2 separate regions of the Homo sapiens genome follow, and region 1 is linked to region 2. A link means that fine-mapping ties the variant in region 2 to the expression of a gene that starts in the linked region. Tissue or cell type: thyroid. Region 2 holds a variant in brackets; the other region holds the start of a gene. All regions are shown on one strand. Distances are from middle to middle. Region 1 holds the start of ALCAM (activated leukocyte cell adhesion molecule). Region 2 overlaps ALCAM (activated leukocyte cell adhesion molecule).

Region 1 (4,396 bases), 120 kb after region 2:
TGCGACGTGGCCCGCCTGTGACGGCACCGAAAAGGAAACTGGTTATGTGCCTGTGTCAGGGGTGTGGACGAGGGTGAGATTACATTCTCCAAGTCTCGAGGGGGTTAATCGGAAAACCAACTGTGGGCGTGTGGACGTTTGCATGTTACAAACCGACATCACCCTTGTCCTCCCTTCTTGGCTCATTCCCTGGCTCCAAAGTGTCCTTTCCTCCATCGGACAGTGGAATCTCGAAAAAGTGAAATCCACACTGTGCCAGGCCCAAGGGGGTCTCGCCTTTCCACCTACCTCCCCAGCGTTGTTACACTAGGACACCTGCTTTAAATCCGGTTGAACTATGGTTTCACAGTCCCCGCCCCAGAGCCCGAGATTTGTCAGAGAACGCAGACGCCTTTTTTTTCCCTCAGCCTCAGAAACATCAGGTGAGCTCATTACCTCACCCAGAAATGTAACTTTAATAAAGAGATCTGGAGAGGGCACTCCTCCCGCCCACACACACAGCAACGGCAGCAGCAGCAGCAGCTCGCAAACACTTGTAATCTCTTCCTCAGGCTCTGGCCCCCAAACCCCTCTCCCCGCCAGTTCCTGGGAGAGATTCAGAGGCTTTCAAACCTCTTCTGTGACCTGAGCTTGCCGACAGCTGAAGGGATGTGCACGGATAAAAGGAAGTGAGATTTTTCTTTGATAAAAGCTAAAGAAAAAGCTAAGAACAAACAGGCCAAAATACCAGGAAGTAGGAGTTTAACTGGCAACTGTCTACGCAGGGATAGAAAAAAAAAACTTCAAAGAAAAAAAAATCCCCTAAATTTTCAGTTTAGGGGAGCAAAGGAACCTGCTGCTCTGTCAGGCAACTGTGAGCGCACGGAATACCCTGTTAGAACAACTTGTGTCAGCCGCCAGGCGGGCCTGAGGATACCAGGGCCAGGGGACGTCCCCGAGGGTGTGGAAAGGGATTTCCCGAGAGATATTTTAGTTGTTGGGAATTTTGCCTTTTCTCTCTCTCTCTCTCTCTCTCTCTCTCTCTCTCTCTCTCTTCCAAGACTCAGTACAGAACTGAGAACTGAGGCTCTATGAGCAGGTCCTGGAAATTCACAAACCTCTCACTGAGGTGTCTCCCAGGCCTACCTACTAATTCCTGTTCTGGCTGTGTTATCTGCCTGCGGTCACCCTTTCACTCACCACCCGCCCAGACAATGGACGGGGACCGCAGGGGGTAACGTTGAAACCACGATTTTAAGCTTTAGCAGGTTTCGCAAGGGGGGCGGGGGGAGGTGATTAAAGTCCTCTCCTTCTCTACCCCTCCCATCCCTTCCTCGGCTCACCAAGGGGAAGTTACTAGGGGATTTATCACGAAAAAGTGCCGGCAGTTATTTCATCCGAGAACTAAGCGAAAGAAAAACTGCTCGGGGCGCAGTGACGTGGACTTGGATACCCAGAGACAGGAGGAACTGTCAGAGGGCAAGAGTCCGCCGCCTAGCTGGGAGCCGCAGGGACAAGGGGAGAGCGTCAGGCGAATCCTGCCCACCCCGGAGCACCAAGTTCCTGGAGATTCACCCAGTTTCCCCAGCTTGATGCCCAAACTTGAGCTAACCAGCCAAGCCCAAACGTGCGGCACAGGTGACCGAGCCCGGGGACAGCTCTGTGCCAGGACAGCGGTCCCCTTACCTCCACCACGCGCCTGGGCGCACTGCCTCGGGGGTGCGAGGCTGGGACGGGGACCTAGGAAACTGCTCCAGGCCCACGTCTGTCTGGGGCTGCTCCCAGGCCCTTGCTCACCTGGCCTGAAGACGGTGGCGGAGATCAAGAGGCAGAAGAGCAGACGGCAGGAACTGGCCCCCTTGGATTCCATATTCCTCCTCCTTCTTGGTGGGCCACTGACGGAGTCCACGCCGCAGGAGGGGGCGTCGTCCCGGGCCCCGCGGTGCCCGCGCGCTGGCGGGTCCCGACGCAGGGGCAGCGTCTTCTCCCAGACACACCGTCCCCTGGGCTGTGGCGCTGCACCTTCGGTTCTCTGCCGCACGCAACTTTCCACCACGCAATGCCCCCAACTCCTCCTCCCTCCCGGTCAACACCAGCCCACGGGCCCTTCGGCTGCTCCTCCGGGGACAACGACCCTCTGTTTCCAGGAGACACTTGAGTAATTCGGAAAGGTGTAAGCGGTTCTTTTCGCTGGTATCTTCTTTTATTTTCCTTGTATTGGAATGATAATAATAATGGCAGTGGCAATGTGCATGAAACGCCAGGTGCTAAGAAGGACTCGCAGGAGGCGGCGACGGGGGGGCGGCGGGTCTCCTCAGGTGGCAGCGGTGGTAGCAGCGGCAGCGGCGGCAGCGGTCTCCGGGCTGCTCTGAGTAGAGGGACTGGAAGGCGTGTGTAAGCTGCCTCTTTCCTCCTCTCCCCGCCTCCTCCCTCCCTCCCGTCTCCTCCCCACTTCCCCGGACGCAGCGCAAAGCAGGTGGTTGAAGCGCGGATCCGCAGCCTAGAGGCGCTGCAGGACTGAGTCCGAGCCCTGAGCCCAGCTCCGGGATCAGGGAGAACCGCGTGCCCCGGTCCTGGAGCCCGGATGAGCGGTGCTTCACCGCGGCTCCGCCCCCAGGGCCAGGTCCGCCAATAAGAAGCAAGCACAGGAGCCGCGCGCGCCAGGGAGAGCCCTGGGACTAACACTTTCTGTGATGTTGCAGCGCCCCAGTGATAAGGCCTCTGGCTTCCAACTGCCCACCCACCCTCGCTGAGGTTTAAAAATCGACTGCCCTCTCCCTCCACCCATACGCCCATCCCACTGACTCATTCCTCAGAGATTTTTCTCCGCCGTGCTGCTGCAGCCTTCTGTCCTGTAAAGAGAATAGTGGGGCAGGGCGGTGGCGGTGGGGAGCGAACCTTGGGTCCAAGAGCGGGAGTGAAGGGAAAAGGAAAGGAAAGGGCAGGAGGAAGTGGCAAAGGTGGAAACTTGCTTCTTGGGAGTTAACAGGAATAGCTACTTGTTGGCAGGGGCAACCCCTGTACTGGACTGATTCCTCCTGTACTTTTCGAATCTCTCTCCTCCCCCTGCTCACCCCCACCACTCCCCTCACACCCGGCTGGCATAGACTTGGTTTTAAAGGAAGACTACGTGAGTCGACTGCCCGGTACCAACAGAAGATATTTGCTTTTCCCGGGGGAAATTAAATCCGGAATTTCTAAACCGTACTTCGTCATACGGATTTTCCCAATGTCTACAAAAGCCCTCTAGAGAGCGTGTCACTTTTTTACTTTGAGTTAAGCGGTGATTTTAAGTTATAGACAGAAAATCCTCAAATTATTTCAGATTAAAAGCCAAGTCCGTCTTGGTCCGTTCCCGAAAGCCAGGCACTCCAGCAGATGGACAGGCTTCTTAGGCAATTTCTAAAGATTGAACCACCTCCCAGGAGGAACATCGGGAAGCTGTGTTGCTTTCAAATCAGGCAGAGAGCATGAAGGAAGATTTTCCTCTAGAACACCGGGGTGGAGCTGTCGGAGCCCTAAGTGGCTCTAAATCAGGGATGCAGGATCACAACTCTCATCACCAAAGAATAATAAAATCTTGGTCCCTGAAGCACTTCGCTGGGGCATTAAATAGCCTTTCGTGCATCACAGGGTCACCCTTTTGTGAGACTGGTCTCCAGCAGAGGATGCCAACTAGTAATCGTTACATACTGCACTTTCATCAGAAAACTGCGAGTTACCAGCGAGATTGGAGACTCGCAACACACAGACACACACACACACACACACACTCACACACTGATTTTTAAAATTGTTTATCTTTTAGTGCTCTAAACTATTAAGCCCTATCTTCAGCTGTGATTTTTCTCAAAAGCCTGCTTGTCCTGTTCTTCCAGTTCTCCTTACATTAACAATATTCTAGAGTAGAGCTTTTATACCATATTTTTTTCCTCTCAAAATAAGTAGTTTCTCCCACTTGGTTTAAACATTAACATTTCATTTGCATCTTATGAATCAACAGGAAGGCTATCGCTAGGAGGCAAATGCCTTTTAACTCTATATTCCTTGAGCTAAGCTTGGCTGAAATGCTAGCATTTCCATGGACTCCTGTAGAATTGCTTTAGGGAATTGTTTTCTTTTTCACTGTGGTTGTAAGTGGGGTGTATTAGAATAAATCGACCTGACAATATATTTAACCTAGGTCCGCGAACGCTCTATCTGATCTCCTCTATTTTACGATGGGAGTTAATACAGCATAATTGCTTAAAGGTAGATTTGCAAAAGGAAGACTGATTTGGGCTCTGACACTAACTGTATGATCTTGGTCAACTCACTTAACCTCTTTAAGCTTCAGTCTCCTTTCTTGTAAAAAGTGATAATAGTGCTAGCCTCATGGGATTGCTGTGAAGATCAAATGAGATCAAACACACAAACA
Region 2 (4,396 bases):
TCAAATGATATAAAACACATTCTCTTCTTTTTAAAAACAAAAGCTAATTCCTTCTAATATGGACTGTATTGTACAATTTGTTCTCCTCCTTTAAGAAAAATTACTGAGTTACAGTTAAGTACAATATAAAGATAAAATTTAAGTTCGTTGAATGCCCATTTGGAAGGTAGAAAATATATCAAGCCTTATAAACTGGTACAATAGTCTTATTCAGAGAGCAGCAATTTATGTGAAAATTCAGTAAGTGCTACAACACCTCAAATAGCTGAGTACAGTAGGCATCCATTATGTATGAAAGCATTTTTAAAACATCAAGCTGCACTTTAGAAGTATCTTTCACTATATTAGGCTCTTCATTCAATAATTTGGACGGGTGTCTCTCCCAGTAGGACTATCACTAATGACACTGCCCAGTGGGATGCCATTTTATGAAGCATGGAAGGATCAATGCTTTCATCTGAAAACATTAAATTTAAAAAGGTTCAAGGTTACTATAAATAGGCTAACCCTTTTAATGATTTAGTTAATAGTTACAGAAACAACTGTTTAATCCAAAAAGTTTCATACCAATAACTTTCTATGAAGAAATCTGATCTTGCTGTTATTTTGGCAGTTGGTAAACCACCAAGAGGAGCAAGTACTTGCTTAACTCTGATTGTAAGAACTATTCTTTTTGGTAAATTGATGTAATTTGTGTCCATTTCTACAGCAGAGTCAAATCTTAACTTTGCAGGCCATTATTTTCATTCATATAAATTTGTGCTTTTACTAAATTGACCTTACAAGCTGTTGAATTAACATATATCATTATTCAGTGATTAAATCAAATACTAGGCAGAAAAATATGAAACAGTCATTTTTGAGGTAAAAATGATCACTTACAGGCAATATCATATTGCTTAATCTAAAACCGAAGTATGTAAATATATAATTTCATTAACATAATGATTTTCATACAATAACACAGATGATAATAGTAATAAATATTTACTATGTGTATATTTATTAAATAAATGAATAAATGATAGTTGATCAAACGTTTCCACTTATTATTATAGACCTAATGCTTAAATTGAACATTTCTGGGTTAAAATGTACTGGTTAGATATATTTTTTTGCATTCTAGGAACCAAATTCATATTTTTTGGTTATGCAGTGGACTCTTTCTCTCTGTCACACACATGTGGATGTGCGCGCACACACACACACACACACACAATGTAGTTCTGTCTGGAATCTCAAAAATAAACTAGATTATCTACTAGCTTTCTTTCAGGACTATAATAAGATTTCTTCCAAATGTATATCAATGCTGTACTCAGAGAAAAACAAGGGCATTTTTTTGAGCAGGAGCAGTTTGTATGTGGGTGTTGATGCCAGCCATTTGGACAAAACATCCACAAGCATCTTTTCATGATGCATTAAGGATGCAAGATTTGGTATTACCAGACTATGCCTACTTTTATTTCTATTCCCTTATGTAAAGCATAGTGTAGTTTGTTTTCATAATTCGAGATTTGATAGATAAAAATTGAACAATGAATAAAAGGTTATTCTATTTTAATTTTTGAACAAATATTTATGGAACCTATCTGAATATTTTAGAATGTTTTCAAGATTTGTATTATTTCCTATCCCCCACCAAAAAAAAAGAATTCTTCCAGACTTTAATTTTGTCTATGGGCTCAGTGAAAAGTATTTGCTTTCCTAAGGTATGAGCATGTACTGGTTCACTAACTTCCCA[G/A]TTGTTTTTCTGGCTGAGAAGAGCTTTTCTTCTGGTGGCACATGTCCATGACAGCTGTTTATTCCACATGTTTCCATTGAAAGCATATTAACCTGAGCAAATGGGGATAATTATCACAGTGTAAAAATGCCTTTGGATGTTAATGATTCCTCTTCTGTCGTCTCCTTTGATTGGCCTGACCCTCGTATTACTATGTATTAATATCCTTAGATCTTCATGGTACCAAGGACATTCCAAAAGTCATCCACATTGACTTTGGCTCAGAAAGCTTGAGTTTTGGTAAATATTTTTCAATTAGGTGTGTAGAAATCAATCAATAGACTATTTCCTCCCATGACCATATGTATTAATATTGACTAGTAATAATTTGATTCACTGACCTTTCAGTCATCTGAAATTAAATTATTGAGATTTAAACATTTTTTTCTTTAAAATCCTGGGTATGGCAGCATGCCATTTAGATGTAGCTGGTGAAAGGGAATATCACAGATATCCGGATCATAGATATTCTTGATTTGATTTCCCAGTTTATATAAATAAATATATATATATAACTAAAATTATATATAAAAAGTATATGTAACAAAAGTAATTCATCCAGTAGAGCAAAAATGGTAGTAGTTACTTTGTAACTTTCCTAGTTGTACTATTTCAGTATTTCCTTACATGGCTGATTTTCTTATATATAATATGTATTTGACATACAATGGCTATATTTGTCTACTTTTGTTAGGAAATTGCTTCTGACCAAGAACGCTTTCCTTTATACCTCTAATACTGTATGTAATATATTAATGTTAGGCGACAGCTTTCTGATCATTTTATCAAATATCTTCATTTTTACAAATAAAGAAAAAACATGAGAAGGAGACAATAAAAGACTTGTCTAAGAACAGGTAAGTTGTTAAAAAGTACTTGTCACTTAATTGGGTTTTGTATAATCCCAGGCACGTTAAGCTCTGGTATTCTATACGTAGCAAACTATAAATCTGATAAAAATTGTTCATTATTAGGTGTAGTTCATCTCATCCCTTTTCACCCCAATGCAACTTCTGTTTACATGTGTTCTATAACACACATTCCTTGTTTGATCTCCATGGTATCTTGATCTCCTGCATGATCCTTCTCTTTCTCTGACTGCAGTTGTTTAGATTATACCAACCACATCCTTTTTTAGAGGGATCTTTTAAGGACTGCATATCCAGCTTTGGCAACACTCCTATGATCTAGCCCCACATTTGCAATTGCTCACAAATCTTTTTCACCTGGATGTTTCACAGACATTTTACAGGCACAAACAGAACTAATTGTTTTCTTATTTTTCTTACCCTATCTTCCATAAGCTTCTCCGTACATTTTCTTTAGGTCACTAATTTGACCATCTATACAAGCAACAAAATTGGGCACTTGGGAGTCACCCTGGGTTTCGCTACTACTCTCAGCCACCCACATCTAATCAATCACAAAGTTCTCCTAATATCTTTCTTTTACTGATATCTGGTATCTGTCCTCCCACCCTTTCCTCTCTTTACCACAGCTCACTTTAATGCCTAACACATAGTAGGCACTCTGCAAATATTTATTGATGAATAAATAGGACAGAAATGAGTAAACGATGACTAAGATATAGCTTCTCCCCTCATTTACTTTATTGTAATAAATGAAGAGAGACAAAGAAATAATACATGATGCCTGCTATCTTCCAGCAGTAGGCATATATGAGAGGTAAATTTCCCCAAGTTGGAAGTCAAAGAAATCTTTCTGAAAAATGAAAGCCTAGGCAAAATCTAAATTCATTTACTCATTTATAATCTAGTTGGTTTTCTACTAATCCCCTTAGATTGAGAATCAGGGGGGAAATTGGCTGGGGACAAAGGGAAATTTAGTTGTTTCTATGAAAACCAGTCTGGCTTCCCTTCTCCTCAGGTAGCCATGACTACTTACATGTTCTTGGGTATGATTTTTTTCTAAAGCACCTCAGATTGCTGTCTTGTAAAATTAGTGACTCACAGAGAAAGACGACTCCACAAATTCTGAAATTTGTGATTTCAATCACAAATCCTGAAACAATTAACTAGCAAATTACATTGCTTTTTAATATAACATTTATAGAACAACATAATTCTAATGGATGTTGTGTTTTAATATAAAGTATAGGCTGAATAAATACACTTTATCAAAAGCTATAGGATAAGCTTCAATCTTACCCTTCTTGTGTGGTGTGTTCCAGTTCTGGCCTGGTCTCAGACATGTGGTATCATTCAAAATGAACAGAATTGTCTGGTGGTTTTTATATAATTTATTTGTTCTGAAATGGACAAACTATACTAAAATAATGAGAGTAAAAATAATAATTCAAATTTTCCTAATATATTCTCTGGAAACAAAAAAAGCTCTTACTTGAGATTTTTGAAATTTTTCTTTTAAAATATGAATTAAGGGCCAGGAATGGTGGTTCACACCTGTTATCTCAGCAGTTGGAGTCCAAGTTATGCAGATCACATGAGGCCAAGAATGTGAGACCAGCCTGGGCAACATGGTGAAACACTATATCTACAAAAAATATCAAAATTAGCCAGCGTGATGGCACACACCTGTAGTCCCAGCTACTTGAGAGACTGAGGTAGGAGGATAGCTTGAACCCAGGAGACA

Evidence for each region.
Region 1: ALCAM starts here. The variant in region 2 is fine-mapped to the expression of ALCAM in thyroid (GTEx, PIP above 0.99).

The regions. Positions count from the first base shown.
Region 1 is chr3:105,364,862-105,369,257 of GRCh38, reverse strand. It overlaps ALCAM (activated leukocyte cell adhesion molecule), which reads right to left and starts at 2,349. Exons shown (of 16, transcript NM_001627.4): 1 at 1,777-2,349. The coding sequence starts at 1,849. RefSeq lists enhancers at 1-328, 665-824 and silencers at 1,855-1,974, 2,305-2,404.
Region 2 is chr3:105,482,198-105,486,593 of GRCh38, reverse strand. The region is part of intron 1 of ALCAM (activated leukocyte cell adhesion molecule); the gene reads right to left. Among named protein-coding and RNA genes, the nearest start is that of ALCAM, 120 kb to the right of the region's middle. The variant G/A (reference allele first, on the strand shown) is at 1,745.